2 linked regions of the Homo sapiens genome follow. The protein of the gene in region 1 purifies or fractionates together with the protein of each later gene. This does not show direct contact. Each region holds a gene or a part of one and is shown on either strand. Other genes may lie near its edges.

Region 1 (5,956 bases):
CCTGTCTCGGCCTCCCAAAGTGCTGGGATTACAGGCGTGAGCCATCGTGCCCAGTCTATTTTTTCTTTAATTTCTTTTCTTTTTTTTTTTTTTTTTGAGATGGAGTTTTGCTCTTTTTGCCCAGGCTGGAGTGCAATGGCACAATCTCGGCTCACCGCAACCTCCGCCTCCCGGGTTCAAGGGATTCTCCTGCCTCAGCCTCCCGAGTAGCTGGGATTGCAGGCATGAGCCACCACCCCGGCTAATTTTGTGTTTTTAGTAGAGACGGGGTTTCTCCATGTTGGTCAGGCTGGACTTGAACTCCCGACCTCAGGTGATCCACCCGCCTCGGCCTCAAAGTGCTGGGATTACAGGCGTGAGCCACCACACCTGGCCTTTCTCTTTAATTTTTAAAGCAGAGCTTTGAACAATGTTTCCAAAGCACACAGCTTAGTTTTGTAATACAATGACCTTCTTTCATGCGGCACTTGTAGCTACAGATTTGCATAACGTTTCTTTTAATTACATATGAATCAAGACACGTACAATGGGCAAAAACAGGTTTGGGAACAAACTCTCAGTCCATCCAGAGGGTGAAAGGGCCACAGGGCAACTACAGAGAAACACCATCTAGTGTTGGGCACCACTTAGTATATTTTACAAAGGGGAGGCAGAGTTGTGGTTAATCCAGGGACCAACGTGGGGAAGGTACATATTCACTAGCACTTTCCCCAGAACACCACTGTGAGGATAAAGTGTGGTGGCGGGTGTCCTGCTTAGCTACTGCCGAGTAACAAACCATCCCCAAACTTAGTGACTTAAACTGGTCATTTTCCTTTGCTTATGATTTTGTGGGTCAGGAATTTGGGAAAGGTTGAGCTGGGTAAGTTCATCTCTGATCCATGTGACATCAGCTGGGCTCTATGGGATTGGAGATAAACTTCCAAGATGGCTTCTTCCCCCATATGTCTGGTGCCTTGGTGCTCTTGGCACTCTTGGCCTCTCTCTCTGTGTCTCTCCCTGCCTCCCTCTCCCATCTCATCTCTCTCTCCTCCCCTTTCTCCTAGTCTGTCTCTCCTTTTCCACCTCCCCTGTTCTCTCTGTCTCCATCTGGGGCCTCATGATCCACAGCCTCTTCACATGGTTTGAGCTTACTCACAATATGGCTGCCTCAGGGTAGACAGACTTCAGCCCAGGTGGAAGCTGCTTCTCATGATAGCCTCAGAAATGTCAGACGTTACTCTGCCACATTCTATTTGTCAAGCACATCACTCATATCAGCCCGGATTCAAAAGAAAGAGACTCCATCTCTTGAAGGCAGCATGACACATGCATACAGGGAGGGAAGGAAGTGACGGCAGCCATCTTGGAGATAACTTGCCTTCATGTCCTGGGGATGCCGTAACAAAGTACCACAAACTGGGTGGCTTAAAACAACAGGAAACAACAGAAGTCCAAAGTTAAGGTATTGGCAAGGTTGGTTCCTTTTGGAGGCTCTAAGGGAAAATCCATTCCATGCTTCTCTCTCAGCTTCTGGTGGTGGCCTACAATCCTTAGCTTGTAGACATATCACTGCAATCTCTGCCTCCATGTTCACATGGCTGTCTTCTCACCATGCCTTTATGTGTCCTCTCCTGTTGTTATAAGGCCACCAGTCATTGGATTTAGGGCCCATACTTTGGTATGACCACTTTTTTTTTTTTTTTTTTTTTTTGAGACAAGGTCTTGCTCTGTTGCCCAGGCTAGAGTCCAGTGGTGTGATCACAGTTCACTGCAGCCTCAACCTCCTGGGCACAGGTGATCCTCCCACCTCAGCCTCTTGAGTTGCTGGGACTACAGGCGCACACCACCACACCTGGGTAATTTTTGTATATTTCTGTAGAGACAGGGTTTCGCCATGTTGCCCAGGCTGATCTGGAACTCCTGGGCCCAACCACACATCTGTCATCCACCTGCCTTGGCCTTCCAAAGTGCTAGGATTACAGGCGTGAGCCCTCATGCCTGGCCATGACCTAATTTAACTTAACTAATTACATCTGCAAATATCCGATTTCTAAAAGTCATATTCTGAAGTTCCAGGTGGACATGAATTTTGGGGGACACTGTTCACCTCAATATACAAGCAACCATAGTAGATGAGTCCTTAGTACATGCTTGACACCAGGTCCACAATCAGTAAACATAAACTTTGGTGAAGTCACCAGGTTTTGATCCCTGGTCTTGTCATGTCTCAGAGCCCATGAGGCCAATTTTAGCCAATTATACCCACAAGATTCAGGGTCTGGGAGATAGACGTCAAGTTGTTCCAGGATGGTGGCCTGGATAGCCCCTCTTCCTTGCCAAGCAGCCCTGGGAATCAGCTCATAGTTTAGAGAATTTGGGAACAGGATAAGGTAGATATTTTTTTCATTCAGGTCAAAGGGAACCACCCATGACTCATCCTTGTCTCCCAGCACAAGTGACTGGTGCACTCTTTGCTGACTCCCAGCCCTACCCTCCACTGTGCTAAATAATATTTGTGATAATAATAAGAAACCACACTTTGGGAGGCTGAGGCGCGCAGATCGCTTTAGGTCAGGAGTTTGAGACCAGCCTGGCCAACATGGCAAAGCCCCATCTCTGTTAAAAATACAAAAATTAGCTGGGTGTGGTGGCGGGGGCCTGTCATCCCAGTTACTCGGGAGGCTGAGGCAGGAGAATCGCTTGAACCCAGGAGGTGGAGGTTGCAGTGAGCTGAGATCATGCCACTTCACTCCAACCTGGGTGACAGAGTGAGACTCTGTCTCAAAATAATAATAATAATAATAATGATAATAATAATAAAATTGATAACAGCAGCTAACACATCTACCGCACTGGTGGAAGCACTCTACAAAGCTTCTTTAATCTTCATGTTAAAACCCTATGCAGGGCTGGGCACAGTGGCTCACGCCTGTAATCCCAGCGCTTTGGGGGGGTCAAGGCGGGCTGATCATTTGAGGTCAGGAGTTCGAGACCAGCCTGGCCAACATGGCAAAACCCCATCTCTACTAAAAATACAAAAATTACCTGGGCATGGTGGCAGGCGCCTGTAATCCCAGCTACTGCCAAGATTGCACCATTGCACTCCAGCCTGGGCGACAGAGCGAGGCCCCATCTCAAGAAAAAAAAAAAGAGGACTCTCTTCCCCTCGTTTGGCCTTGATGCCGCCATCTTCACAGTCCTGGGATATTTGTCTATGCGATTCCAGTCTTCCAACTGCACTGGCTGTAAGCGAGGCCAAGAGAGTGTCTCTCTTTAACACAGTTCTGCCCGAAGTCCCAGAGCTGGGTCTCATTGGTCCATTTCAGGTCACATGACTCGTGTGAGACAATCTCCTGTGTTCCCATTGGCTGGGCCGGAGTCGTGTGACCAGCTATGACTACAAAAGATGGAGTCAACGCACAGAAAAATGACAGGCGCGATCCCTGGGTCCCTTCAGTGCTGGTTACAGGGAAGAGGGTCTCCAGAGGCCCCCTGGGTCCAAAGAGGGAGGGTCCTCACCCCCTTCCCACACTGTTTCCCCAGGCCCTAAGCAGGATGCTGAGGCAGCCAAGAGGTTCATCCTGGACATGTACACGAGGATGTACACCGGGTGCGTGGACGGCCCCGAGGGCAGCAAGAAGGGCGCACGATCCCGACGCCTCTTCAGCCACTACACATGTGCCACAGACACACAGAACATCCGCAAGGTCTTCAAGGACGTGCGGGACTCGGTGCTCGCCCGCTACCTGGACGAGATCAACCTGCTGTGACCCAGGCCCCACCTGGGGCAGGCGGCACCGGCGGGCGGGTGGGAGGTGGGAGTGGCTGCAGGGACCCCTAGTGTCCCTGGTCTATCTCTCCAGCCTCGGCCCACACGCAAGGGAGTCGGGGGACGGACGGCCCGCTGCTGGCCGCTCTCTTCTCTGCCTCTCACCAGGACAGCCGCCCCCCAGGGTACTCCTGCCCTTGCTTGACTCAGTTTCCCTCCTTTGAAAGGGAAGGAGCAAAACGGCCATTTGGGATGCCAGGGTGGATGAAAAGGTGAAGAAATCAGGGGATTGAGGACTTGGGTGGGTGGGCATCTCTCAGGAGCCCCATCTCCGGGCGTGTCACCTCCTGGGCAGGGTTCTGGGACCCTCTGTGGGTGACGCACACCCTGGGATGGGGCTAGTAGAGCCTTCAGGCGCCTTCGGGCGTGGACTCTGGCGCACTCTAGTGGACAGGAGAAGGAACGCCTTCCAGGAACCTGTGGACTAGGGGTGCAGGGACTTCCCTTTGCAAGGGGTAACAGACCGCTGGAAAACACTGTCACTTTCAGAGCTCGGTGGCTCACAGCGTGTCCTGCCCCGGTTTGCGGACGAGAGAAATCGCGGCCCACAAGCATCCCCCCATCCCTTGCAGGCTGGGGGCTGGGCATGCTGCATCTTAACCTTTTGTATTTATTCCCTCACCTTCTGCAGGGCTCCGTGCGGGCTGAAATTAAAGATTTCTTAGAGGCTGCGTCGCCAGCGTCCTGTTTATCCCCTCTGCATTCCTTTCTCGGCTTACGTGTCCCGGGGGCAGTGCTTACAGTGCGGGGAGCAACGTGGAGTAGGAAGGAAAAAAGTTATACTTCTTGTCTACCCACCTGTCCTGGCCATGGTACCCAGAACTGTGGAGGCTGTGAGTCCCGCAAGCCGGGACGTGGAGTCCAACCTCCCTCCCAGGCTGGGGGGGACATTGAAGCAGACTCCTCCGTGGCTACTGACCTGAAATTCCAGTAGCAGCCCCCACCCAGCTTTGAGAAGGCCTCTTACTATCCTCAGGGCAGTGTTCTGGGGTGCAAGCCGTAGCACCCCACTTTACAGGTGAGGAAACCGGGGCGCAGAGAAGTGGAGTAATTTGACTAAGCTCACACACCTGGAATTGACAGAGGCAGGAGCCTGTTCCTACGTTGAACACATTTGTGGTTTTTTATTTGTTTGTTTTTTGAGACAATCTCACTTGGTTGCCCAGGCTGGAGTGCAGTGGTGCGATCTCGGTTCACTGCAGCCTCTGCCTCCTGGGTTCAAGTGATTCTCATGCCTCAGCCTCTGCAGTAGCTGAGATTACAGGCACCCGCCACCACACCTGGCTACTTTTTTTTTTTTTGATGGAGTCCCGCTCTGTGGCCCAGGCTGGAGTGCAGTGGCGCAATCTCGTCTCACTGCAACCTCCACCTCCCAGGTTCAAGTGATTCTCCTGCCTCAGCCTCCTGAGTAGCTTGGACTACAGTTGTGTGCCATCACACCTGGCCATATTTTTGTATTTTTAGTAGAGACAGGGTTTCACCATGTTGGCCAAACTGGTCTCAAACTCCTGACCTCAAGTGATCCGCCTCCCTCGACCTCCCAAAGTGCTGGGATTACAGGCATGAGCCACCACACCTGGCCTAATTTTTCTTCTTATAAAAACACTAGTCACACTGGATCAGGGTCCAGCCTGTCATCCCCATCTTAACTTGATTACATCGGCAAAGACCGTATTTCTAAATAAGGTCCCATTCACAGATACCGGGGGTTATGACTTCATCATATCTTTGTAGGGGAGCCACATTTGAACCTATAAAAGGTATTTTGTAATACAAAAAGGAGCCGGGCGTGGTGGTGCATGCTTGCAATCCCAGCTAATTGGGAGGCTGAAGCATGAGAGTTGCTTGAACCCGGGAGGCGGAGGTTGCGGTGAGCCAAGATCCTGCCACTGCACTCTAGCCTGAGCGACAGAGTGAGACCTTGTCTCAAATAATAAATAAATAAATACATAAATAAATAAATAAATATAAAAGTATGTTATAGAAACCCTCTCCACTGAGTTTGGTCTGACATTTTGCTGCTGGTCAGACTGGGGTGATGGGTTTCAGGGAGGAAGACCTCAGTGGTGACAGCCCTTCTCACCACATCCTATCTTTCTGTTTTTTTTTTGAGACGGAGTCTCACTCTGTCACCCAGGCTGGAAG
Region 2 (8,739 bases), on another chromosome or scaffold:
CACCAGACCACACCAGCACACTGGAGCCTCCTCGTTTGCCTCAAAGAAAGAACTTACAAAGTGAAAAGGAAACTTATCAGCTGTCTAAGGAAGTGGAAATTTTATCTAGGAACCTGGTTGAAATGCAACGGTGTCTTTCTGAACTTACAAACCGTCTGCATAATGGGAAGAAATCCTCTTCAGTGTATCCACTCTCTCAAGATCTTCCTTATGTTCACATCATTTACCAGGTAAATTCTCCTTTGAGGAACTACCACTATACATAAAAGCTCCTGCAGCCGGTGAGTACTGCAAGAAACGTATTGATGAGGAAGATGGTGCTCTAACTGAGCTTCACTAAGCTGGGCATGTTATGTTACAGGCAAGTTGGTACACCTTTGCAGGTTGGTTGGTTTTTAGCCTGCCAACCAGATAGGCGCACATATCAGTCTGCATCATGATTTTATCAGGTGCATGACGTGGAAAAATAAATGTCTGCACTAATTCGGGCAATTTATATTTAGAAAAAAAATCATGTTATTTCATTGTGACAACCTTTTCCTTATATAATAGAGATACTCCTCCAGTTATAAAAAAGGTTATGTTGCTGGGCTCCATGGCTCACGCCTGTAATCCTAGCACTTTGGGAGGCCGAGGCAAGTGGATCACCTGAGGTCAGGAGTTCGAGACCAGCCTGGCCAATGTGGTGAAACCCTGTCTCTAACAAAAATATAAAAATTAGCTGGGCATGGTGATGGGCGCCTGTAATCCCAGCTACTTGGGAAAGCAGGAGTATCACTTGAGCCCGGGAGGCACAGGTTTCAGTGAGCCGAGACTGTGCCACTGCACTCCAGCCTGGGCAACAGGGCGAGACTCCGTCTCAAAGAAAAAGGAAAAGGTTATGTTCATTTAAAATGTTTTGATGCATTTCTTTATGCATGCATGTCCAAACATTATATAAGTGGGATCATATTATACATGTTTTTATCATGGACACTTTCCTCCTATATAAAATATGGCCTTGCCCCATCTTCCCCTTAATCCGCTGTAACCAGCAGCTTAACATGGATCCTTTCGTGACTTTCTCCATGGTCACATGATCTAACACAGGTCTTTGTGTACATAGATATATAGGTATGTGGGAATGGTTTGTCATTGTTTTTACAAAAATAGGGTGATATGGTGCACTCTTTACTTCATACTGAGAGTATGCTCTTTATTTAGCCATTCCCTTGTTGATTGACATTCACTTTGTTTTTAGTTTTTAGCTACTCCAAATGATGCTGCAGTAGTACTCTTATATGTATCCATTCATATTAGTACCTTTATTTCTGTTGGATTGGTTCCCAGAAGTAGAAATGCAAATTTGAAGAGTATATGTGTTTCTACTTTTAATTGAGTTACCAGATTGCCTCTCAAAGATTTTTACTTAACAGTGCATCATCACACGCCCGCCAGCTATGTATAAGGCTGTCCTTTTCCTCGTATGTCACCAATCTGATCAGTGACCCTCCTGCTTCAGCCTCCTGAGCAGCTGAGACTACAAGCACATGCCACCACACTTGGCTAATTTTTTTTTTTTTTAGCAGAGACAGGATCTTGCTATGTTGCCTAGGCTGATCATGACCTCCTGGGCTCAAGTGATAGTCTTGCCTCAGCCTCCCAAAGTGCTGGGATTACAGGTGTGTGCCACTGCATGTGGCCCCAACCCTACATTTTTTTAAAGAGGATTTTTGCCACATTAACTACATGGAGTTTTCAGTAGTAGAGTTTTAATTTTTTTTTTTAAGTCACAGCTTTGCTGTGAGGAGCATTTTATTTTATTTATTTATTTATTTATTTATTTATTTATTTATTTATTTTTGAGACGGAGTCTCTGTCACCAGGCTGGAGTGCAGTGGCGCGATCTCAGCTCGCTGCAACCTCCAACTCCCAGGTTCTAGCAATTCTCCTGCCTCAGCCTCCCAAGTAGCTGGGATTACAGGCACGTGCCACCACACCTGGCTAATTTTTGTATTCTTAGTAGAGGCGGGGTTTCACCGTGTTGGCCAGGATGAGCTCAATCTCCTGACCTTGTGATCTGCCCGCCTTGGCCTCCCAGAGTGCTGAGATTACACGTGTAAGCCACTGCGCCCGGCCTAATTTTTTTTTAATTAAAAAAAATTTTTTTTTAACTATAGAGACAAGGTCTTGCTATGTTGCCCAGGCTTGTTTGGAAGTCCTGGGCTCAAGCAGTCCTCCTGCTTCAGCCTCCCAAAGCGCTGGGATTACAGGTGTGAGCCACTGCACCCAGCCATAGTTTTGATTTTTTTAAAATTATTTTATTTATAAATGTGATAACTGGTTTGGATTTCTTTCCTACTATGACTTTTTAAAGAGTTTGTTTTCTTTTTCTTCTGTCTTTTTTTAATAGGTAATTCATTTATTTGGTTTAAAAAGCAAAACTGTATTTTAATAAAAACTGTATACCAAGAACTCTTATTCCTACCCTATGTTTCTTCAGCCTGTTCTCCTTTCCTCCTTTAGGTAACCATTTTTATTTTTATTTCTTTATGCAGATACTAGCAGACTTTAGTTATGTATTTTTATTTCCCCTTTTGTTACACAAAAGGGAAGGTGATATACACACCTTTTCATTTTCCATTTAATAGTATGTCCTAGAGAGCTCTTTATATCAGCACACAGAGCTCTTTTTTCATCTTTTTTTCCACAGCTGCATAGTATTTTTTTTTCCTAATTACAAAAGTAATATATACTTGTTGAGGAAAAAAATTTTACCATTACAGAAAGTAAAAATTTTCCATAATCCAACCTTTAGAGAAAATCACAGATATAGCTAAATATTTTATTAGATGTTAGATGTAAATATTTCCATATTTTTTCTGTACATTTATCTAATCCAAAAAAAATCTAATATAAAAATATATTATTTTTAAAATTTTCTTTAAATAGGCTATTTTACTTGCAAACAATAATATATCTTTCTGTTTTTAAAACACTTATAAATGTAAAATTTTATATTTTTAAAAACTAAGGTTAAAACAACCATGTTTGGCCAGGCACAGTGGCTTAAACCTGTAACCCCAGAACTTTGGGAGGCCGAGATGGGTAGATCACTTGAGTCCAGGAGTTCGAGACCAGCCTGGGCAGCATGGCAAAACCCTGTCTCTACCGAAAAATACAAAAATTAGCCAGCCGTGATGGCACCCACCTGTTTTCCCAGCTACTTGGGAGGCTGAGGTGTGAGGATCACCTAAGCTGAGGAGGTTGAGGCTGCAGTGAGCTGTGATCGTGCCACTGCACGCCAGCCTGGGAAACAGAGCAAGACTCTGTCTCAAAAAAAAAAAAAAAAAGTTTTGTTGCCCTTTCAATTCCTCAGTTTTTTAGTTTATAATTATGTCATCCAACCAAGCTGTTGTCAGTAGTTATCTCTGGAGGATAGAATTTTGGGGGCTTTACTGTCTGCATTATATATTTCTGTTATATTTTTATTTTATTTATTTATTTTTAGATAGAGCTTTGCTTTGTCACCCAGGCCGGAGTGCAGTGGCGCGATCTTGGCTCACTGCAACCTCCGCCTCCTGGGTTCAAGCGATTCTCTGCCTCAGCCACCCAGGTAGTTGGGATTACAGGTGTGCACCACCACACCCAGCTAATTTTTGTATTTATAGTAGAGATGGGGTTTCACCATGTTGGCCAGGCTGGTCTCGAACTCCTGACCTCAAGTGATCCACCCGCCTTGGCCTTCCAAAGTTCTGGGATTACAGGCGTGAGCCACCACACCCGGCCCTATTATACTTTTAAAAAATTGATCATTTATTCCTTTTGTAATGAGAAAAGTAAAAGTTACACAATAATCAAAAGCAAGAAATAGTTTCCCCTGTAATTTCAGAAATTACATTTCATAAGACGTGAAATAAATGATTAGTTGGTTTTGACTTTTACAGTTTATTCCTGTGACTTCATTTAAAAATATTAGTGGACATATTCTTTGAGTGGTTCATCCTACCACAGTGATGTATAGTTTTATTTTCTTTTTATGAGATGGGGTCTTGCCATGTTGCCCAGGCTGCTCTCCAATACCTGGGCTCAAGCAATCCATGCACTCTGGCCTCCCAAAGTGCTTAACAACAAAATAAGTTAGACACATAACTTATACAACTGTCCTTCATTTATTTATTTATTTAGAGATGGAGTCTGTCTCTGTCACTCAGCCTGGAGTACAGTGGCACCTTCTCAGCTCACTGCAACCTTTGCCTCCTGGGTTCAAGTGATTCTCCTACCTCAGCCTCCCGAGTAGCTGGGACTACAAGTGTGTACCACCATGCCTGGCTAACTTTTTTATTTTTTGTAAAGACAGGGTTTTGCCATATTGCCCAGGCTGGTCTTGAACTCCTGGGCTCAAGTGATCTGTCCATCTTAGCCTCCCAAACTTTTGGTACTAAGGGGTGAGCCACTGTGCCCAGCCAATTTTTAATGACTTTAAAATTTACAAATCATTTATTTTTATTTGTGCTTTTTCTAAGCTATGTGAATTTTGACCATGGTTTGTTTATTTTATGCAAATCCTCTGCTACTCTACCACTTAGGACACTCTCTCGGCATTTTTTTTCCTAATAAACCATGAGGTGTCTTAGCTATATCTGAAACAGCCAAGAAGGTGTTCTTACCGTCAGATTGTGTCTCTCAGGCTGCTGTCCATCATCCTTTTAGTGTTATTAGTTGTATTCTAGGAGAGCCAGTTCCTAGTGATGAAGAACCCTGAGGAAAGAGTAGAACAAAAGGAAAAATAAGGCTGTTTTGTTCGGATTTTTTAGTTGTGTTAAATAATGCAGCAAAGAGCTCCTTAAAACTGAAGTCCAGTTGATTAGTGGTAATAGATAAGAATTTTTTAAAAAACTATTTACACATTCCTTTCTTAAGAAATGTTAACTCGATTACTTCTGCAATCAGTTTAACAACTTTTATTTTTTATTTGCAGAAACCTTATTATCTAGGTCCTGTTGTTGAAAAAAGAGCGGTGCTTCTCTGTGATGGTAAACTAAGGCTCAGTACAGTTCAGCAGACTTTTGGCCTTTCTCTCATTGAAATGCTACATGGTAGGTCGTGCTCAGAAATTGACCCTAGCTAACATCCTTGCCTCCCCCACCATCTGTTTTAACTATGCCGGTAATGAAAATGAGGGATACCAACCATTCAGTAATTCACTGGATAGTTAACAAGTAATCTATTATTATTATTATTATTGAGACAGGGTCTTGCTCTGTTGCCCAGGCCAGAGTGCCTCGGTGTGATCATAGCTCACTGCAGCCTCGAACTCCTGAGCTCAAGCAATCCTCCCATCTCAGACTCCCAACTAGTGAGAACTATAGGTGTTCACTACCATGCCCAGCCAAGTTTTGTTTGTTTGTTTGTTTGTTTTTTGGAGATGGAGTCTTGCTCTGCCACCCGGTCCTGGAGTACAGTGGCGCAGTCTCAGCTCACTGCAACCTCCGCCTCCCGGGTTCAAGCAATTCTCCTGTCTCAGCCTCCTGAGTAGCTGGGACTACAGGCGCACGCTGCCATGCCTGGCTAATTTTTTGTATTTTCGTAGAGACGGGTTTCACTGTGTTGCCCAGGCTGAGCTCAGGCAATCCGCCTGCCTCGGCCTCCCAAAGTGCTGGGATTAAAGGCGTGAGCCACTGCACCCAGCCTCAGCCAAGTTTAAAAAAAATGTTTGTAGATAACGGGGTCTCACTCTGTTGCCCAGGCTGGTCTTGAACTCCTGACCTCAAGTGATCCGTCCACCTTGGCCTCCCAAAGTGCTATGATTACTGGCATAAGCCACCACACCCAGCCTTAACAAATATTATTAATTGCCTACTATATACCCAGGCCTAGTATAGGTGCCAAAACATATGGAAAATATGCACCCTGCCCTTAGGGAACTTACAGCCTAGCTGGAAAAGTTAAATGTACATATGAAAAAATAAGAAAAGACTTACAAAGCAGTGTATAACAACTGCAAGGAAGTAACAGAAAGCCTCATTTATTTCTGTTGCACTAAAATGTAAAGATCATAGCAGCATTGCAGAATGTTTCTTTCTTTCTTTTTTTTTTTTTGAGACCGAGTCTCACTCTGTCACCCAGGCTGGAATGCAGTGGCATGATCTCGGCTCACTGCAACCTCCGCCTCCTGGGTTCAAGCGATTCTCCTGCCTCAGCCTCCCGAGTAGCTGGGACTACAGGCACATGCCACCACGCCTGGCTAATATTTTGTATTTTTAGTAGAAATGGGGTTTCACCATGTTAGCCAGGATGGTCTCGATCTCCTGACCTCGAGATCTGCCCGCCTCGGCCTCCCAAAGTGGTGGGATTATAGGCGTGAGCCACTGCGCCCGGCCTACAGAATATTTCTTTGAGGAGTTGCCATTCTAATATGGAGTAAACATGGATGTTCAAAGGATATTCCTAAGTGGCAAGGGACTGAGTCATGCCAGATTCATCAGATGTGGAGCATGGTTGTTTTCTTATGCCTCATTCTTGTAACAGTAGCCACCACATTGAACATCAAATATCATTTCATTTTTTCCCCTTTTTCTCCTACCTGACCCTAAGTAATACCCAGTCTTCCCAATACCCCATTCTCTGTAAAATCTTACAAGGATTGAGTTGAATATTATCAACTACTATATTCCTTCACTCAGAAAAAAAAATTTGTAGTCATATGTTTCATCATAAGAATAATATATACTAAATTGCCTGTGTATTTATTTTTATTTGCAGATTCCCACTGGATTCTTCTCTCTGCTGACAGTGAGGGCTTTATCCCGTTAACCTTCACAGCCACACAGGAAATAATCATAAGAGATGGCAGCCTGTCCAGGTCAGATGTCTTCAGAGACTCTTTTTCTCACAGTCCAGGTGCTGTTTCTTCTCTTAAAGTCTTTACAGGCCTTGCTGCCCCCAGTTTAGATACCACTGGCTGTTGTAACCATGTAGATGGCATGGCTTGATATCTGCAGTGTCCTTGCTGTGTAGCTCTTCAGATGAGACCATTACAAACAAGGCCTGCTTGACACTGGACACTCGCCAATGAGACTCCCACTGCACTCAGGCGAAGCGCTTGCCATGGTCGGCTCTCCTGGTTTCCCCCTGTTTCCCCTGAGCTGAGGCTCGCTGCTGTGTAGCAGAGCTCAGTCTTTATTAGATGGCTCCGAAAGTGGTGTTTATGTATTCATGACTGTGTGGTTTTGACTAAGGGCAGAATTCTCAGAACAAAACAATATTATGGTGCCATATGGATGGTGTTTTATGGTTTCTCTGAGGCTTTGTGTCCCTTGTCCAAAGCTGCATTGAAGCTGTCTTAGGAGCACTTAAAAGATACCTTGGCATTGTTATAGGTCTTTTTCTTGGCTTCAAGAGGAGGTTGAGGAGTCTGCTGGGGGGCATGTGCTCTAGCATATTAACCTCAAACCAGCAAGAATTAGCAGAGCTCCAAGGAGGACCAGAGACCCACTGGCTTCTGCTCTCAGGAACAGGAAGTGGCTCTGATGTTGCCTGGACCTCCCAGAATTTAAACCAAACCCTCTTGCTTCCTTAACAAATTCTGGCTGACGAAGGTCCAGGTACTCTTAAAAACTGGCCCTGGGAAAATTTTGAATGAAATTTCAAGGGAATTTGTCCCCTCTGGGTTCCACTTGAGGTTGTGCCGATGCTGCTACCACACTGTCGAGCCCAGGTAAGTCCTACTGCAGGATTTTGTGCTGTGGCCACTCATGAGTGTCCCTGAAATAACTTTTTTTTTTTTTAAATCCAGTTTTGGGATCACGCAACTTTCCTATTTTTCTCCCAGTAGTCAGCTCCCTTAGTTAACTTGTCACTTTAATTTGATATTTTTATTTTCTCTCCTTTTAAGTCTTAGAGACCAGCAGAGAATCTGTGAGAGAAAGTATTTCAGGAAGTTAGAAATTCAACCGAATCTGAGGTAGTCCTAAAAAGTGCCATTTTGTTTCACTTATGGGCTAAAGTACCAGCTTAGTCAGGTAAGAGCCCTGACCCACTTCAGATGGTAACACCACTTCTCACTGCCTTCAGATGGAATCACAGATTTCAGTCACGGCGCATAACAAATTGATCAGTGAGTGGCTAGGCATCTGCAGATAAATTGTTTCAGCCATAGAAGCTCCATTAGCACATATGCTTCCTTTTCCCCCCTTCCTTTAAAATCATCTGGAAAGAAACTATTTTGTGCCCTTGGGGACTCCTGTCTGTCTGTTACAGTTTACCAAGATGGAGCTGGGTTAGGAAAGAAGTGAGGGCCCATTTTGTGGTTCAAGTGCACTAGACAGCTGCTGGGGTAGGAAGCACAGGCAATGTCTGTAATCAGCTGTGGGAGAGCAGTGACTGAGAACAGTCTGAGGCCTGGCTCCACTTGGAAGTATCTGGGGTGCGATGAAATCACAATTATCTTGAAGCCTAAAGAGGGAACTACAAGACTGTTAACTAAGATCAATGTGGGCACCTAAAAGGGTATGTTAAAATCACCATTTCTCAGGTCAAAATACTGTGAATAAGTCTTCAATAAAATCACTAATGGTTATTGTGGCTGTTTTGGATGTTTTGGTAGTATTTTCTTTGCGATTATTGCTGCTATAGAGGAACCGGCAATAATCTTGCAGTTATATATGCATATGTTGTCTGTATTCCTTCTTCTGGTGGACAGTCCAGAATATAAATGGTTCTTTACAACAAATCTGATTCCATGACAACTCTCATACA

Evidence for each region. The genes of interacting proteins can lie anywhere in the genome.
Region 2: the proteins of GNA15 (region 1) and WDCP purify together in Homo sapiens (affinity purification with mass spectrometry; 2 studies listed by BioGRID and IntAct, with this or other methods). This does not show direct contact.

Annotation. Positions count from the first base shown.
Region 1 is NC_000019.10:3,159,268-3,165,223, forward strand, and holds the end of GNA15 (guanine nucleotide-binding protein subunit alpha-15), read left to right. Parts: intron 1-3,525; coding exon 3,526-3,752; 3' UTR 3,753-4,482; downstream 4,483-5,956. UniProt on the Homo sapiens protein: Guanine nucleotide-binding proteins (G proteins) are involved as modulators or transducers in various transmembrane signaling systems.
Region 2 is NC_000002.12:24,029,168-24,037,906, reverse strand, and holds the end of WDCP (WD repeat and coiled-coil-containing protein), read left to right. Parts: coding exon 1-230; intron 231-4,649; exon of another isoform or gene 4,650-4,701; intron 4,702-4,960; coding exon 4,961-5,078; intron 5,079-6,744; coding exon 6,745-6,974; 3' UTR 6,975-8,560; downstream 8,561-8,739.